Regions from separate parts of the Homo sapiens genome. Here region 1 is linked to region 2. The links come from fine-mapping of genetic effects on gene expression. A gene starts in region 2. The other region holds a variant in brackets. All regions are shown on one strand. Distances are from middle to middle.

The links. PIP is the estimated chance that this variant, and not a neighbour inherited with it, causes the effect.
Region 1: its variant is fine-mapped to the expression of OGDH in testis (GTEx, PIP above 0.99).

The regions. Positions count from the first base shown.
Region 1 is chr7:44,674,117-44,683,847 of GRCh38, reverse strand. It overlaps OGDH (oxoglutarate dehydrogenase), which reads right to left. Exons shown (of 23, transcript NM_002541.4): 7 at 9,291-9,437; 8 at 8,580-8,670; 9 at 7,699-7,878; 10 at 2,000-2,128. Among named protein-coding and RNA genes, the nearest start is that of ZMIZ2, 70 kb to the left of the region's middle. RefSeq lists a silencer at 5,489-5,702. The variant G/A (reference allele first, on the strand shown) is at 5,924.
Region 2 is chr7:44,600,752-44,610,482 of GRCh38, reverse strand. It overlaps OGDH (oxoglutarate dehydrogenase), which reads right to left and starts at 3,856. Exons shown (of 23, transcript NM_002541.4): 1 at 3,830-3,856. RefSeq lists enhancers at 2,867-3,206, 2,882-3,445, 3,697-4,296 and a silencer at 3,427-3,656.

The DNA.
Region 1 (9,731 bases), 73 kb before region 2:
AGGGGAACCCTTAGCTACGGCTGGTGGAAGAATCTAACAGGTGATATGTATCAGGCCTGTGCAGAAATATTCATGAGAATGTTCATCACAGCCTTACTGAAAATAAAAAATGAGAATCCTAAGAGTCCATTTTATGAAACAAGTTATAAGATATTTCTATTAAAATTATTTTAAAAGGGTACGTAATGATATGAGCAAATATGTGGTAAATAAGAGTGGATATAAAGCTGTGTACATGGAACCCAGTTTCTTAAAGAAAGAGAACGTCCCCATGCACAGGCCATCTGTATGCCTGTGGAACCAGAAGAAAATATTCTTGTCGGGCATGGTGGATCACACCTACAATCCCAGTGCTTTGGGAGACCAAGATGGGAGGATCACTTGAAGCCAGGAGTTCAAGAGCAGCCTCGGTAACAGAGTGACATCCCGCCTCTACACAAAATAAAAAAAAATTAGTCAGGAGTGGTGGTGCACGTCTATAGTCCTTGCTACTCGGGAGGCTGAGGCAGGAAGATGCTTGAGTCCATGAGTTCAAGGCTGCAATGAGCTATCATCATGCCCCTACACTCCAGCGTGAGCTATGGGGCAAGACTGGTCTCAAACAAACAAACAAAAATCTAAAACAATAATGCCATCTTAAAAATAATGTATTAAAATCTATTTTTTTCTTTTTTATTTATTTATTTACTTATTTATTTTGAGACAGAGTCTTGCTCTGTCATCCAGGCTGGAGTGCAGTGGCGTGATCTCAGCTCACTGTGAGCTCCACCTCCCGGGTTCACGCCATTCTCCTGCCTCAGCCTCCCAAGTAGCTGGGACTATAGGTGCCCGCCACCACACCCGCCTAATTTTTTTGTATTTTTAGTAGAGACGGGGTTTCACTGTGGTAGCCAGGATGGTCTCGATCTCTTGACCTCATGATCCGTCTGCCTCGGCCGCCCAAAGTGCTGGGATTACAGGTGTGAGCCACCACGCCCAGCCTATTTATTTTTTTCAAGACAGGGTCTCACTCTGTTGCCCAGACTAGAGTGCAGTGGCATAATCATGGCTCACTGCAGCCTCGACCTCCCAGGTTCAAGTGATCCTCCTATCTCAAACCCCCAAGTAGCTAGGACCACAGGCATGCACCACCATGCCTAATTTTTTTAATTTTTTTTTTAGACAGACTCCTGCTCTGTCGCCCAGGCTTAGTGGTGTGATCTTGGCTCACGGTAACCTCCGCCTCAAGGGTTTCAAGTGATTCTTGTGCCTCAGCCTCCCAAGCAGCTGGGATTACAAGTGCGCGCCACCAAGCAGGTAGCTTTGTATTTTTAGTAGAGATGAGGTTTCTCCATGTTGGCCAGGCTGGTCTCGAACTCCTGGCCTCAAGTGATCTGCCCACCTTGGCCTCCCAAAGTGCTGGGATTACATTTGTGGGCCACCATGCCCGGTGCTAACTTTTTTTCTTTTCTTTTTTTTTTTTGAAATGGAGTTTCGCTCTTGTTGTCCAGGCTGGAATGCAATGGCGCAATCTTGGCTCACTGTAACCTTCACCTCTCGGGTTCAAGCAATTCTCCTGCCTCAGCCTTCCAAGCAGCTGGGATCACAGGCATGTGATCCCATGGCTAATTTTGTATTTTTAGCAGAGACGGGGTTTCACCACATTGGCCAGGCTTGAACTCCTGACCTCAGGTGATCCACCTGCCTCGGCCTCCCAAAGTGCTGGGATTACAGGACTGAGCCACTGCACCCGGCCACCCAGTGCTAATTTTTCAATTTTTTTGCAGAGAAAGGGGGTCTCACTATATTGCCCAGACTGGTCTCAAACTCATGGGCTGAAGCAATCCTCCTGCCTTGGCTTCCCAAAGTGCTACGATTACAGGCGTGAGCCACTGCACCTGGTTTTTAATAACAGATGTATTTTTATAATCAGAAAACAGTGAACGTCCTAAATGACTCAGAGATGTCATTCTAAGTAAGACTGATGTGAGCAGCAAAGCCGCAGGCTGGTGTGAGGTACCTGGTTGTTGACGACCACGTGCACGGTGCCATGAGTTGTGTAGGATGGCAGGTCGCTGAGGTGGAAGGTCTCGTACACAATGCCCTGGCCAGCAAATGCAGCATCCCCATGCAACAGGATGGACATGACCTGTAAACACCAAAGGAGACCCCAAATCCAGAATGTTCTGATTGCCAAGTCCACAAGGTAAACAGAGGAAATGCATCATTTGTTTTTCAAAAAATAACGTTTTGAGATAATTTCAAACATAGAAAGTAGCAGGAAAGTCCACAGGGCCCCAAATCCCCAACATGCTAGCACCTTGGTATATCTGCTCAACACCAACACACCCTGCCATCATCATCTGTTCTCAGCACTGAAAGAGCTGTAGACCTGATGCATTGCTAGGACACTCTCCAACATGACTACCCGGACCCTCTGTTCCGGGAGGGCAGCACTAGCTTAGCCATTGGCCCCAGACCCCACATGGGAGGGCAGCATCACTTGCCAGGTCTCTTTGGCTCCTCCAACCAGGAGCAGCTCCTCATCCTTCTTGTCTTTGCACCCTTGACAGACCTTGGGTCCCCACTTGGGAAGGACATACTGCATCAGGTCAGGTTAACTCTGCTCACCTGGGAGGCTGCTGTCTGCTATCCTCCCTTTCACTCACCATTGTTTTCCTTGGCAATGAGTATAGTGGTAGTATTTTGTGAGAAGAAACTTTACATCCTGTTCCTCCTCAAACCTCCACCCCAGCCTCAGCAGTATTGACAACTGCGTCTGAACCAGCCCCTTGGGTGGTTGATGGATGGCAAACACCAGTTTCGATTACTCCTAAATTTATTAGTTGGCATTCTCTGCAAGGAAGAGCTTTCCCTTCTCCCTTGTTTATTTACTCGTGTTAGTATGTACTCATGGTTCCTATTTTATTCGACAGGTTGCATTAATATTGTTAGTTATTTTAATGCTCACACTGTTCCAGGTTGATAGGGAGAGCAGCTCTGTCCAGCTGCCTCCCTTTCCTGTGAACAGGGACAGGTCTCTTTCATTCATGAGCACCTCCTTGCTTCCTGACCAACAGAACATTGTAGCTTCCATGTTGTACTGTCCCTGTCCAGCCCTGGACAATATCAGCTGTTTCTCTAAGAAGCCAGCTTCCTCCAGTAGAGGATGGGATTTAAGACCAGTATTTGTGTGCTCATCACTGCCAGGATATCATCATTTCTAGGCCCATTCCGCATACATCTAAAAAATACATGTGTGCATATGCAGGCGCACATATACATGGCTATTTCTGTGTGTGTGTGTGTGTGTGTGTGTGTGTGTGTGTATGCAATAAAACTATGAGTTTGTATTGATACCTCCAAATTTTAATCCAACACTTTCTAGGCCACCTCCTTCCACACCTATAAATATCTCCTACAACTGCAAGACACTCCATCCTCACTGCCTTTGATATGTTTACTCATTTGCTCAGTGTCCCCAATGCCACAATCATGTAAGCCCACCACCTCTACTCCTTGGATACACAGCCTATACCTCTTTAAAACCCTTGTATTAGTCAGAGCTCTCCAGAGAGACAGAACTGAGAGGGTGAAGAGGAAGAGGGAGAGAGAGAATGATTTTCTTTCTTTCTTTTCTTCTTTTTCTTTTTTTTTGAGGCAGGGTCTCACTCTTTCACCCAGGCTGGAGTGCAGTGGCACGATCTCAGCTCACTGCAACCTCTGCCTCCCAAGCTCAAGTGATTTTCCCACCTCAGTCACACAAGTAGCAGGGAATACAAGTACATGCCACCATGCCTGGCTAATTTTGGCATTTTTTTGTAGACACGAGGTTTCACCATGTTGGTCATGCTGGTCTCAAACTCCTGGGTTCAAGCACTCCTCTTGCCTCAGCCTCCCAAAGTGCTGGGATTACAGGCATGAGTCATCGTGCCTGGCCGAGAAAGATGGGTTTTTAAGGAATCAGGCTGGCAAGTGCAAAGTCTGCAGGGCGGGCTGGCAGGCTGGAGACCCACAGCAGAGCTGATGTTGCAGCTTAAGTGTGAAGGCTGTCTGGAGGCAGAATTCCTTCTTTTCTGGGAACCTCAGTTTTTTCTCGAAGGCCTTGAACTGACTGGATGAAACCCACTCACATTGTGCAAGGTCTTCTACTTTACTCAAAATCTACTGGTTTAAACGTTAATCTTATCTTTACAAAATGCCATCTAGATGGGTGTTTAGCAAAAAAAACCTGGACGCTGTGGCTAGCCAAGGTGATATACAACACACCCTCTCCTGCTGTGTCCTCAGCCTACGGGCCTACTGACCTGCACCTCCCTGAGTTCTTGTGATTACCCTGGTCCTCAGCGCTGTGCTGAGTCATCCTTGGTTAAGACCCATGATTTGTGTGTCAGGGACAAAACCTAGAATTTTTAAAAACAGAACTGCAGGTGTCCTGCCTTTTGGTGGATGTGGCAGGTGCTCACTAGGATAGCAGCATGTGGACGTAAGGATCTGGTTTGCTTACGGGGCCCCCTTGGAGGTGTGCAGCTTTGCTACGATGCCCAGGCTGCCTGAGTGTAAAAGCCATTGGTTTTGAGTCACTGACATTTCATGCTTTCCTGATCCCGATAGTGTGTTGTTTCTTCCCGCAGATACTTTTCTGTCCAGTCTGTCTTCTGCTGACAGGGCACCTGTAGTCAGTCTTCCTCTTGTCATGGTATTTGCTCTTGATCATCCTGGTGATGTTGTACTGCGACTACCATGCCATACTGCACTGTGGTAACTGTCTGCTGAAATCACAGCCAGGACACATGGGGAATCTCCTTGTGTCTGGCAGCCTGAGCCATACCTCTGGCAGGAGCGGGTTCTCCCTTTGCAGCAGGTTGCATTGCTGCACTGAGGAAATGCTTTCATGAACAAAGATCCCAAAGGCCATATTAGCACTGAGCCAAATCAGGTCTGTTTCACAATCATGCATGAGGTTATGGGATGACCTCAGCTGCACTTACAGAAAGTATGTAATTCTTCACGAAAAATGCTGAGAGTTACATAACACACACTCCAGCTCCCTGAGTTTCTGGATTTAATAGAAATCAAATCATGTCCTATGGGTGTCAAGAGGAGTAAGAAGAACAGGCAGATGGCTGAGCCTGCAATGACCCCACACTGACCCTGCTGGGGACATGTGAGGGCTTGAGGCAAGGTGACGAGGAGGCTCAGAAAGAGGGCCTGGCAGCTATCCACATTGGGGCAAGGGCAAACTTGTGACAACAAGGTTTGTGTAGACTGGAAAACAAAGGGACTGACAGTTCGGACTCAGCTGCATGCAGACTTATGAGCAAATCAGGGACTAACCAGCCTCTCCTGTCCTGGCATCTCATGAAGGGACCAATCAGTGTGACCATCTGTAGCAGTTTAAAATATACTCTATTGCTTTTACTCTAATGATTTCATTCCTTTTTGGGAAATTTCCAGCATTATGAGGTGAGTACTGCTAGAGTGGATTTCTGTCCACAATCTATGAATGTGGGAATCACCCAAAGTTTTCGGTAATCTCATTCCACTACTCAGCCCAAATGCCTGGGCGAGTGTCCTAGCCAAGGAGGGTGCAAATACCAGAGGCACTGGTCATCACAATGCTGATCTCCCCATGCCGATCTCACCTTAGCCCAGGCCATCCCAGACACCCAGTGTTGTTACTGCCTGCGGGGGCTGCAGGTTCCCCAGAGCTAAGGCCTCTTTGCATCTAGTTGAAGTTTCTGTGGCACTGTCCTGGCCCATGAGCTTGAAGCCATGGAATGACCTCTGCGTCCCTGTGGGTCATACTCGTTCTTTACAGTGAGCATTGATCGATGCGGGAATCACTTCCCCAGCCCAGGCTCCATTACCTATGATGACAGTTTCCCTTCCTCTAACACTGTAAGCATGACAGTAGTAGATTTACAGTATTTAAAATTATAGA[G/A]CCTGGTAAAGTAATAATTGGTTCCACTTCTTTTTTTTTTTTTTTTCCTTTGAGAAGGAGTCTCCCTCTGTCACCCAGGCTGGAGTGCAGTGGCGTGATCTCAGCTCACTGCAACCTCCGCCTCCCAGGTTCAAGCAATTCTCCTGCCTCAGCCTCCTGAGTAGCTGAGACTACAGGCGTGTGCCACCATGCCCGGCTAATTTTTTTTTTGTATTTTTAGTAGAGATGGGGTTTCACTGTGTTAGCCAGGATGGTCTCGAACTCCTGACCTCAGGTGATCCACCCGCCTCAGCCTCCCAAAGTGCTGGGATTACAGGCGTGAGCCACCGCACCTGGCCAATTGGTTCCACTTCTAACATAGACCTGACTTCTTTCCAGGGCACAACTAGGAGGCCGGCCCCTCCCTGCTCTGTGTCCCCAATTCCCCCTACATCTTTGCTCTTACCTTTCATCTCCAGAAAACATTCTTCCCTTCCCACCTCCCTAAATCCTGCCACTTCTCAAATAAAATGACAACTACCTGCTCTGCTACTAAGGGGTGTGCCTTCTATCCTTGGTCCAACTCTAGCCCACACCCCTGCACACCTCTTCCAAAGCTCTTCACGGCTAACTCCAGTTTCCTATCATGCCGTGTATGTGCTATTTGCTTCTTTACACACGACCTTTTTTCTAAAAAGAACAGGAGGCTCTGGAGAGAAAAGTGGTGATGCCTTCTTTATATGTTTCCCAGAACCCATACATAAGACATTACAAATATTTGATTTTTTTTCTGATTATTTGGTTTTTAGGTCATCATTAATAGGAAATATAAAATTTGTCAGACAAGATTCTATCTTGAAGTTAAATAAGGGCAAATTGTTACAATCTGTTGAGACTATTTCTACACAAGCAGGCAGGCGAGTCAACCCCCAACACTCAGTCACATGACCAGAAATGGTGAAGCAGGACCCCACCTGCCTGCAGTCTGTGCCCTCCTCCGTCTCCTACCAGCCCGTGAACTCCCGCCTCTAATCACAGCAAGCATGACTCTCCTGACAAGTCTCAGTTCTACAATTTCTCCTTCAGGCTCACCTACACTTTTTCCTTACAGAGACTCTCAGACTCCCCTCCTTTTCAGTGAAAACATCTCTGTCCATTCAGAATAACTGCAACCTGGCTCCTTAACAGATTTGGTGAAGACAAAAGCAAACTTCCCACATAGTTCTGACAATTACAACTTCAGGAAAAGGAACACTGTAAGCAGGACTGTTTTACTATTGCTATTCTTTAAAAGTTGATTTTAAATATATATATATATATATATATATATACACACACACACACATACATACATATACATATATTTTTTATTTATTTATTTTTTTCTTTGAGACAGAGTTTCGCTCTTGTTGGCCCAGGCTGGAGTGCAATGGCGTAATCTCGGCTCACTGCAACCTCCACCTCCCGGGTTCAAGCGATTCTCCTGCCTCAGCCTCCTGAGTAGCTGGGATTACAGGCGCGCGCCACCACGCCCAGCTAATTTTGTATTTTTAGTAGAGATGGAGTTTCTCCATGTTGGTCAGGCTGGTCTCCAACTCCCGAACTCAGGTGATCTGCCCACCTCGGCCTCCCAAAGTGCTGGGATTACAGGCGTGAGACACTGCGCCCGGCCGACTTTAAATATTTTTTTAAAGTCTAGATGCACCCAGGGCTCTGGGTTATGTTGGTGAGCGGAACTCCATGCTGGAACATGGGGCCTTGACGATCTGCCTTGCACGCCTCTCTCTGGGCCTTACCTTTTTCCCTTCAGTGTCGCCACAGTAAAACTGTTCGGCTTTGGTCTTGCCCATCACCACGGGGTCAGCGGCCTCAAGGTGGGAAGGGTTGGCCACCAAGGACAAGGTAATGTTCCTGTCGGTGACACGATTGATCCTGCGGTGATACATGCCCAGGTGGTACTTCACATCTCCGGAGCCCTGATGGGGTAAACAGTGAATTTGCACCCTGGCCAAGGAGATGCTCAGTCTCCAAAAGAGCCCTTTTATACGGGAATTTTTTTTTTTTTTTTGAGATGGAGTTTCGCTCTTGTTGCCCAGGTTGGAGTGCAATGGCGCGATCTCGGCTCACTGCAACCTCCACTTTCTGGGTTCAAGCGATTCTCCTGCCTCAGCCTCCCGAGTAGCTGGGATTACAGGCATGCGCCACCACGCCCGGCTAATTTTGTATTTTTAGTAGAGATGGGGTTTCTCCATGTTGGTCAGGCTGGTCTCAAACTCTCGACCTCACGTGATCCGCCTGCCTCAGCCTCCCAAAGTGTTGGGGTTACGGATGTGAGCCACCATGCCCAGCCTTATATGGGATTTCTACTCCCAGGAACCCAACGCAGAAGGATATGGAGGCCTTTTCCCAGGATCATTCCCATCCAGGGCATAAGGAGAACGTCCCTCAGCCAGAGGGGACACACCCCTGCACTCAGAGTGGGGCTGCTGGACCTCTGACCAGGAGGTGGGCCACTGGCCACCTTTGTCCCAACACTAAAATTCTCCCAACAAGGAAGGCAAATCACAAATGGTACAGAAGAACCAACCCCCCGTAAGTCATTCTAAGAAAGAAGTGGAGCCAGGGGTCTTGTGTAAGTTGGGGCTATGCTGGATGTGTCTCTATGCAGGTGCCTCACCTCATCAGCTGCCTCCAGCTTTGAATCGAATTGACAGAAGATCTGTTCCAGCTCCTTCCTGATGACATTTGCAAGCACGTTCAGCCGCCCTCTGGAACGTATGGGCGAGTAGGGTGAGCAGAGCCTGAGGTCATGGTTTCCAGATGGCAGATGAGGGTGTTACAATCCCCCCCTCCCCCTCCCCCCAGGACACGGCACCTCCTCGGTTTGCAGCCCAAGGATAGCTGTAAACTGGAGCTAATGTGGGAACCGAGCCTCTCCGTGCTGGGCAATCAAGGCCACAGTGGGCAGCAGAAAGATAGAAGATGCAGCAATGCCATGGGCCTGAGGCTTCCTTACCCTTCTCCCTCCCCACACCTTCCCTATTTTCACAGTCTTGGCCTCCCCTTCAATGTCAGGAAGCAGCCTTCCCTCCAGGTTAGACCCCAACAAGGGAACTTGGGTTTAATTTTCATAAAGATGCACTGTAAGGCCAAATGCCAGTCTGAAACTACATGTGGCTTTGGAGGTGACCATGACTTTGCAGTCCTCCAGAGGCAGGCAATGTGAGAATCCCCTGCAAAGCAATACACCCTCAGGTACCAGATGAGCCCAGACTCACAACTGGCACTCAAGGAGGAAACAGCTGCTCTCTCAGTGCCTTTACCTGGTGCCTCCTACACAGCCCACAGGGATGGTGAGAAACCAGGTTGGGCGCGCCCTTGGCTGTACCTGTGTGGCATGCCCATGATCACGTAGTCCACGCCATTCTCACTAGACTTGTCAATGATGGTCTTGAGGGCAGGGATCAGTACCTCGCAGCCTTCTAGACCAAAGCGCTTCTCAGAGGACCACTTCCGCTGTAGGAACTCCTCAAACCTGGACAGGGAACCAAGCCACCTTGAAGGGCAATGTCACTCTTCCTGACCAAAAAGAGGGGATTCTGGCCAGGCATGGAGGCTCACACCTGTAATCCCAGCACCTTGGGAGGCCGAGGTGGGCAGATCAGCTGAGGTCAGGAGTTCGAGACCAGCCTGGCCAACACGGTGAAACCTCATCTCTACTAAAAATATAAAAATTAGCCAGCCGTGGTGGTGTGCCTCTGTAATCCCTGCTACTCAGGAGGCTGAGGCAAGAGAATCACTTGAATTCAGGAGGCGGAGGTTGCTCTGA
Region 2 (9,731 bases):
AAAATACAAAAATTAGCCAGGTGTGGTGGCAAGCGCCTGTAATCCCAGCTACTCAGGAGGCTGAGGCGGAAGAATCGCTTGAACCTGGGAGGCAGAGGTTGTAGAGATTACGCCACTGCACTCCAGCCTGGGGGACAGAACGAGACTCCATCTCAAAAACAAAACAAACAAACAAACAAAAAAAAAACCAAGATGAAAAGACATGCTGCTGACTAGGAGAAAATATCTGCAAACTACATATCCAACAAAGCAGTGGTATCTAGAATACATTAGGAATTCTCAAAGCTCAACAGTTAACAAAAACCGAACAATCTAATTACGAAATGAACAAAAGATATGAACAGACATTTCACCCGAGAGTATACAGGGGCCAGGCATGGTGGCTCATGCCTGAAATCCTAGCCTTTGGGAGGCTAAGACAGGAGGATCACTTGATCCCAGGAGTTCAAGACCAGCCTGGGCAACATAGCAAGATCCCATCTCTTCCAAAAAAAGAGAGAATAGACAGATGGCAAATAAGCACATGAAAAGATGTTCAACATCATTAGCCATCAGAAAAATGCAAATTACAACCACAAAGAGACATTACTACACATTTATTGGAATGGCTATAATAAAAAAAGTAACATCACCAAATGCTGGCAAGTATGTGGAGAAACAAGACCATACAGTGCCGGTGGGAATGTAAAATAGTACAATCACTCTGGAAAACAGTTTGGCTATTTGTTTAATAACTAAGCACGCACTACGACTTAGTGATTGTATTCCTGGGCATTTATCTTGGAGAAATGTCAATTTATGTTCAAATAAAAATCTGTACATGAAGGTTTGTAGCAGCTTTATTTGTAATAGCCAAAGAATGGAAACAGTAAAGATGTCTTTTAATGGATGAATAAACCAAATGTGGTACATCCATAGCCCAATAGCCCGGCTTCAATAAAAAGGAATGAAGTACCTTTTTTTTTTTTTTTTTGAGACAGGGTCTCACTCTGTCACTCATGCTGGAGTGCAGTGGCGCGATCTCGGCTCACCGCAGCCACCACAGCCTAGGCTCAAGCGATCCTCCCACCTCAGCTTCCTGAGTAGCTGGGATTACAGGAACACACCACTGCGCCTGGCTAATTTTTTTTTTTTTTTTTTTTTGTAGAGACGAGGTCTCACTATGTTCCTCAGACTCGAACTCCTGGGGCTCAAGCGATCTGCCTGCCTCAGCCTCCCAAAGTTGCTAGGATTACAGGCGTAAGCCACTGCGCCTGGCCAAGGAATGAACTACCCATAACACGCAACAACCTGGATGATTCTCCAGGGAATTAAGCTGACTGGAAAAAACCAATCCCAAAAGGCTCTATGAATCCTTTTATTTGGCATTCTTGACATGCCAAAATTAGGGAAATGAAGAACAGATTAGTGGTTACCAGGAGTTGAAGGACTGGGAATGGGAGGAATGTGGGTGTGGCTATAAAAAAGCAATGGAAGGGATCCTTGTGATGACGGGAATATTCTGTATCTTGAATTTTATTAATGTCAATATCTGGCTGTGATATTTACTATAGTTTTGCACAATGTTAGAGAAGTGGGAAAGGAACACAGGATCTCTCTGTACTATTTATTATGACTGCATAGAATAAATTTTTATGTACAATTTCTTAAAATTTTACTGTTTTCAAAATGAATTTCTCAATAATTTGTACAATGATCTCAAAAATTACCTAAAAATCTAAAAAGTAGATGATACTGTAGTTTTTTCTTTCCTTTTTTTTTTGAGATGGAGTCTTGCTCTGTCGCTCAGGCTGTAGTGCCGTGGCGCCATCTCGACTCGCTGCAACCTCTGCCTCCTGCGTTCAAGCGATTCTCCTGCCTCAGCCTCCTGCTGAGGCTGGAGGAGCTCAGCCTGTAGCTGAGACTACAGGCCCACGCCACCATGCCCTGCTAACTTTTGTATTTTTAGTAGAGACAGGGTTTCACCATGTTGGCCAGGCTGGTCTCAAACTCCCAACCTCAGGGGATCCACCCACCTCGGCCTCCCAAAGTGCTAGGATTACAGGCGTGAGCCACTGCGCCCGGCCTTTTTTTTTGAGACAGGATCTCACTGTGTCACCCAGGCTAGAGTGCAGTGGGGCAATAATGGCTCACTGCAGCTTGGACCTCCCTGGCTCATGCCATCCTCCCGCCTCAGCCTCCTGAGTAGTTGCGACTACAAGTATATGTGGTATATGCCACCATATCCGGATAATTTTATTTTTTGTAGACGCCGGGTATCACTTTGGTTGCTCAGGCTGGTCTCCTTGAACTGAGCTCAAGGGATCTTCCTTTCACACTCCCAAAGTGTGGGGATTACAAACGTGAGCCACCACGACTGGCCGAAATTGTGCACGTCAAATGGGTGAATCGTATGGTATGTGAATTTTATCTCAATAAAGATGTTATTTAAAGGGAAAAAGTAACTGAAATGTGAAAAGTGCGCTTAAAAAAAATAATGAGGGGCCGGGCGCAGTGGCTCACGCCTGTAATCCCAGCACTTTGGGGGCCGAGGCGGGCGGATCACCTGAGGTCAGGAGTTCGAGAATAGCCTGGCCAAGGTGGTGAAAACCCGTCTCTACTAAAAATACAAAAATTAGCCGGGCGTGATGGCGCGTGCCTGTAATATCAGCTACTTGGGAGGCTGAGGCAGGAGAATCACTTGAACCCAGGAAGGCAGAGGTTGCAGTGAGCCGAGATCGCGCCACAGCACTCCAGCCTGGGCGACAGAGACTCCATCTCAAACAAGACAACAACAACAAAAAATGAGCATACAGTGATCTTTATTCAACTTCCCAAGATCCAGTCCTCAGCTAATTTACAAAACTACAATAGTGTTACATACTCTCCTAGGTCTACACGGCAAAGTACAGTTTGACTGTTGCAACTAGTGCTGCCTTACAAAAAAAGGCTTTATCCCATGCCACCCATCCTAAACCCAGCTGTTCAGAGCAGTGTACCTGGAAATCAGCCTCAAAGTACGGACTGCAAGACAAGGCACAAGGAAACCCTAACACGAAGTCCTATGTTCTGGGCAAAGGGATGGGGATGGCAGGTGGGACGCACCCAGGTCAGGGCGAGGGCGCGGCAAGTTTTCTATTAAATCTCAGTAGATTACAACTCATATCCAATGTCTGATATATTTTCGAGGGAAAATGGTGCTTGAAAGATGTTTCTACGAGAAATAAGCTTCATCTCGGTCAATCTGTTCGACCCAACTTCTGGCAGCAGGTGTGGGGGCGGCGCCAAGGTCTGCGCGGTAATCCAAACAGGCAGTCCCACCCAGGGCCACCCCAAAGCCAGATGCTCCGACGCAACTCGAGCAGGCCACACTGTCTTTCGGACAAAGCGACGCGGTCCTCACAGGCGGGAAGGAGAGTGCGTCCCGGTCGGGAAGGACGCCGTCGGAGAGCGGCCTAACCACGTGACGCCCGCGGCGACCTTGGGGGTCACCCCTGCGGACGCACCGCCCTCTCCCTCACATCCGCCGCCGCGCCCGCCCCCCGCTCGCCCACCGCCAATGGCGCGTCGCTCCGCGCCCCGCGCGACCTCGGAGCCCGCCCGTACCCGCCAATCTCCGCCCGCCGGGCAGGCCCCGCGGCTCCATTGGCTGCCACGGCCATCCATCAGGTCCCGTCCCTCCTACCACCCTCCGTGAGCCCCACTCCATCCAGCTCCACTCCCCTGTCACCGCGGCGCCCGCAGCACCAAGGGCGCGGCGGCCTCCCCCTTTACCGCGATCTCCAACCCCGGGCCGCCAAGCGCCGCGACACCCGGCACTGGGACGGGCGCGGCGACAGCGCACGGTTACCTGTCTCCGGCTCAGCTCCACCCGAATGAGGCGCCGACACCCCACTCCGGGGCTCCAAACTCTCGGCCCCGCCCCGGCGTATGGCGTCAACACGTAGCCCTCCCCTGGAGAAGAATGCCCTCCCCTCTTACAGAGGACCGATTCGTGACGTCACAGAGCCGCGCCGGGCGTCACAGCGCCGACTGCGCAGTTGCAGAAGCCAGGGCCAGCTGGAGCCCAGCTGTTTGCTCCGCTAGAGAGATGAGGTTGTCTATGGACTTCCAGCGGCTTCTGCTATCATAAATAATTTCTGAAAGTAAGATATCTCTAGCGCCTGGTAGGAACCTATCAAGAGATAGTTGGGTTGATGTGAAACTTAGCGCACAAAAATAAACAATTTGAATAACAGAATCTCCGTTTTTGAGATTGTCCTGGGTCAGGCTTTGTGACAAGCGCTTCACCGGCGCTATTGTGTAACAATCTGTGAGACAGGTGTTCCTATCCCCGGTCTACAAATGACAGTTGGCAGTGCTGGGATCTTGCCCGGGATCTTGCCTGGGTTTTCTTGACTTTAGAGCTACCTATCAAAGATAAAACGTGGCTAATTAACCTGTCACAACCTGTTGATTGTAAGATGTTCCCTATTTTAAAGTATTAAAATTTGGGGAAAGGCCGGGCGCGGTGGCTCACGCCTGTAATCCCAGTACTTTGGGAGGCCGAAGCGGGCGGATCACTTGAGGTCAGGAGTTCGAGACCAGCTTGACCAACATGGGGAAACCCCGTCTCTACTAAAAATACAAAAATTAGCTGGGCGTGGTGGCGATCCCAGCTACTCGGGAGGCTGAGGCAGGAGAGTCGCTAGAACCCGGGAGACGGAGGTTGCGGTGTGCCGAGATCGTGCCATTGCACTCCAGCCTGGGCAACAAGAGCGAAAATCCGTCTCAAAAAACAAACAAAAAAAGGGGGCGTATAAGTGCTTATTATAGAACAAAGTTAGGGTAATGTATGTGACAAGGATCTAGAGACTGGAAGAGGTGAAGAGACCAAGGAACAAACTTCTGTATTCTTTTTTCCTTTTTTTTTTTTAAATAAATTACGGTAAAAATGTATGTACTAAACATTTGCAGCTGGGTGCAGTGGCTCACGCTTGTAATCCCAGCACTTCGGGAGGTGGAGGCGGGAGGATCGCTTGAGCTCAGGAGTTCCAGATCAGCCTGGGGAACAGAGCAAGATCTCATTTCTACTAAAAAATCAAGAAAATTAGCCAGGTGTAGTGGCACTCACCTGTAGTCTCAGCTAATTGGGAGGCTGAGGCAGGAGGATCTCTTGAGCCTGAGAGATTGAGGCTGCAGTGAGCTATGATTGTACCACTGCACTCCAGCCTGGGCCAGAGAGCAAGATACTGTCTTTTTTTTTTTAATGCCATTTTAACCATTTTTAGGTGTATAACTCAGTGGCATTAATTACATTCACAATATTATGCAACCGTCACCACTCAATTTCCAAAACTTTTTCATCACCTGAAACAGCAACTCTGTAACCATTAAGCAATAACTTCCTATTTCCCCTTCTCCTCCTGTCCTTCTCTCCTTTGGTAACCTCTATTATACGGTCTCTATACATTTGATTACTCAATTACTTTATGTGGGTGAAATCATAATGTATATGTCCTTTTGTGTCCACCTTATTTCATTGAGCATGAGGTTGTCAAGGTTTATCTGTGTTGTAGCATGGGTCAGAACTTCATTTCTTTTTTTTTTTTTTGAGACAGGATCTCCCTCGGTTTCAGGCTGGAGGGCAGTGGTGCCATCTCAGCTCACTGCAATCTCTGCCACCCAGGTTCAAGTGATTCTGATGCCTCAGCCTCCCAAGTAGCTGGGACTACTGGCACGCTCCACCATGCCTGGCTAATATTTTTTTCTTTTTCTTTCTTTCTTTTTTTATTTTTGAGATGGTGTTTCGTTCTTGTTGCCCAGGCTGGAGTGCAGTGGTGTCATCTCGGCTCACTGCAACCTCTGCCTTGTAGATTCAAGCAATTCTCCTGCCTCAGCCTCTCAAGTAGCTGGGATTATAAGCGCCCGCCACTACGCCCAGCTTATTTTGTATTTTTAGTAGCGATGGGGTTTCACCATGTTGGCCAGGCTGGTCTTGAACTCTTGACCTCAAGTGATCCACCCACCTCGACCTCCCAAAGTGCTGGGATTACAGGCATGAGCCCCCATGCCTGGCCAGAACTTCATTTCTTTTTATGGCTGAATAATATTCCATTGTATGTATATACCACATTTTGTTTATTTATTCATCTATTGATGGACACTTGGTTATTTCTGCTTTTTTGCTGTTTTGAATAATGTTGCAATGAACATTGGCTTATAAATGTTTGAGCCCATTGTGGTACCAAGCAGTGGGCTCACTGCTAGATGCACATAGAAGCCAATACTATGTCATCACCTTTTGAGAAAAGGCTTTATCGTAAGGTCGACCAGCAGGGAAACCAGAGGCAATACTCAAATTTGTCTCCCCAAGATGGAATCTGGGGGCAGGTTTTATAGGCAGAAGGCAACTATGAGGGAGATGGGAAAATACAACAAGGTGTGATCTGTTTGGGTCATGCAAAGGGGCAATGCTGGATCTTTGGCTTTTAAGTTCATATTGCAGCAAAACAAGGCGCCCCATGCTTCCTAATTTGGTGTCCATTCCTCCATTTGAGTGGTTAAGTCCTGCCTGTGGTTGACTTTTGTGTTCCCACCGACACCAGGGTCAGCTATCAGGCACACTTTGTTCATCTGGGCATACTTAGGTTACGTGACTTGCAGCCTGGGGATCTATTGTAACTGAAAAACAACTCATCATTTTGTTACTGATAAAAGTTGAACCAGGCTGGGCACAATGGCTCACACCTGTAATCCCAGCACTGTGGGAGACTGAGGTGGGTGGATCACCCGAGGTCAGGAGTTCAAGACCAGCCTGGCCAGCAGGGCGAAACCCCCATCTCTACTAAAAATACAAAAAAATTAGCCAGGCTGGTGGTGGGTGCCTGTAATCCCAGCTACTTGGGAGGCTGAGGCAGGAGAATCGTTTGAACTCGGGAGCCGGAGGTTGCAGTGAGCCAAAACCGCTCCTTTGCACTCCAACCTGGGCAAGAAGAACAAAACTCCATCTCAAAAAAAAAAAAAAAAAAAAAAACTGAATCAGATTCAACTGGTCCTGTGGTTACACCTGTTTATAATTCTTTTGCCTGTATACCTGGGAGTGTAATTTCTGAGTTATATGGGAATTCTGTCTAGCTTTTTCAGGAAGTGATAAATTCCCACAGTGACCGCACCTTTTTTGTTTGTTTGTTTTTGAGACAAGGTGTCAGGTTGGAGTGCAGTAGTGTGATCACAGCTCACTGCAGCCTCAACCTCCGGGGCTCAAGTGATCCTCTCAGCTCACGCTCCTGAGTAGCTGGGACAATGGGCATGCACAACCAGGCTAGGCTAATTTTTTCTGTTTTTTGTAGAGACAGGATCTTGCTGTGTTGCCCAGGCTGGTCTCGAAGTCCTGGCCTCAAGCGATCCTGCTGCCTCAGCCTCCCATAGTGTTGAGATTACAGGTCTGTCTCTATTTTTTTTTTTTACTGTCTCTATTTTTAAAAAAATTACTATCGGTCAGTCATGATGCCTCACTCCTGTAATCCCAGCACTTTCAGAGGCCAAAGTAGGAGGATTATCAGCCTGAGCAACATAGTGAGACTTTGTCTCTCCAAAAAAAAAAAATTAGGAGTGGTGACACATGCCTGTAGTCCTACCTATTTGGAACGCTGGGACAGTAGGATTGCTTGAGCCCAGGAGCTTGAGGTTGCAGTGAGCTATGATCATGCCACAGAACTCTAGCCTGGGCACAGAGCAAGACCCTGTTCCCCCACCTCCCCACTCCCCAACCAAAAAAATTTGGTGAGGTGTAGTGGCTTATGCCTGTAATCCCACCACTTTGGGAGGCTGAGTCAGGAGGATTGCTTGAGGCTAGGAGTTCAAGATCAGCTGGGCAACATAGCAAGACCCCATCTCTAAAAAAAATTTATTACAGCCAACTATAATAAATAGGTATGAGGTGGTATCTCATTGTGGTTTAGAAAGTATTATTATTTTTTAGAGGTAGAGTCTCACTCTGCCACCTAGTCTGGAGTGCATGAGCACAATCAGAGATCACTGCAGCCTTGAACTCCTGGGCTGGGACTGCAAGTGTGGGCCACCACGGCTCATTGTGGTTTTGATTTGCATTTCCCTAGTGGCTAATGATGTTGAGCATATTTTCATGTGGTGCTTGTCCATTTGTATATTTTCTTCAGAGAGCTGTCCATTTGAGTCATTTGCCCATTTTTAAATTGGGTTTTCTTGTTGTTATAGGAGTTCTTTATATATTCTGGATATTAAATCTAATCAGATATATGATTTGCAGATATTTTCTCCCATTTTGTAGGTTTTCATTTCTTTTTTTTTGTTTGTTTGCTTGTTTTGAGACAGGGTCTTACTCTGTTCCCTAGGCTGGAGTGCAGTGGTGTGTGATCATGGCTCACCGCAGGCTTGATCTCCTAGGCTCAAGTGATCCTCTTGCCTCAGCCTCCTGAGTAGCTGGAACCATACCACAGGTGCACACCACCACGCCCAGCTAATATTGTTATTTTATATATTTATGTTTTTTTGAGACAGAGTCTCGTTCTGTCACCAGGCTGGAGTGCAGTGGTGCGATCTTGGCTCACTGCAACCTCTGCCTCCTGGGTTAAAGCGATTCTCCTGCCTCAGCCTCCTGAGTAGCTGGGACTACAGGCATGTGCCACCACACCCAGCTAATTTTTGTATTTTTAGTAGAGACGGTGTTTCACCATGTTGGCCAGGATGGTCTCGATCTCTTCACCTCGTGATCCGCCCTCCTCGGCCTCCCAAAGTGTTGGGATTACAGGCGTGAGCCACCGCACCTGGCCAATATTGTTATTTTTTGTAGAGACAGGGTCTTGCTTTGTTGCCCTGGCTGGTCTTGCACTCCTGGCCTCAAGAGATCCTCCCACCTCAGCCTCTCAAATGTGCCAGGCCTCTCTTTATCTCTTGACAATGTCCTTTGATGAACAAAAGTTTTTAATTTTGTTGTTGTTGTTCCTAAGGAGTTTATCTGGGCTGTCTTGGGGGTGGAGAGGACTCTGTACCTAGAGAAGGTATTGGGTTTCTTGTTAACAAAGTGTGGCTCATGCTGGCATGGCAGGACTGGTGGGGCAGAAAGAACTTGATAGTGAAGTGGTGGAATTGATTGCTGACTGGCAGCACTTTCTGACGCAGTCTCCTTCATCTTCCTCATCTGGATGGAATGCGCCTGGCACTCTGTCACCAGGTGGTGATGTCCACCAGGTCAGGGCCCATGTTCCCAGTGCAGGTTTTGGGTGCCACTTGGAGGATAGTGCAGCCAGATGCCCAAACTCTTCACCTGAAGAGGGCGGGTTCTCCAACACCTGCCCACTGGAGACAGTTTCCACTGAAGGCTTCTTCAGCTGAGATACAAAGTGCCAGAGGCTCAAAGATTCGCATGGGGTAGAGGGTTGGTGTGCAGCTTTTGGGGGTGGTCAGGCAACACCCCCACCACCTTGTGTTCTTGATGTGTGCCCCAGGCCTTCCTGGCTTCTCTTAGTGCTAGCCACCACTCACAAAAGGTTGAAAGTTTTTAATTTTGATGTTGCTTATGTCATATCTAAGAATCCATTGCCAAATCTAAGGTTATGAAGATTTACCCTTATGTTTCTTCTATGAGGTAATGATTTTAGCTCATATTTAGATTGTTTACCCATTTTGAGTTAATTTTTATAAGTGACTGTGCAGTAGGGATCTAACTTCATTTTTTTTTTTTCTAAGACAGGGTCTCTCCCTGTCACCCAGGCTGGAGTACAGTGGCATGA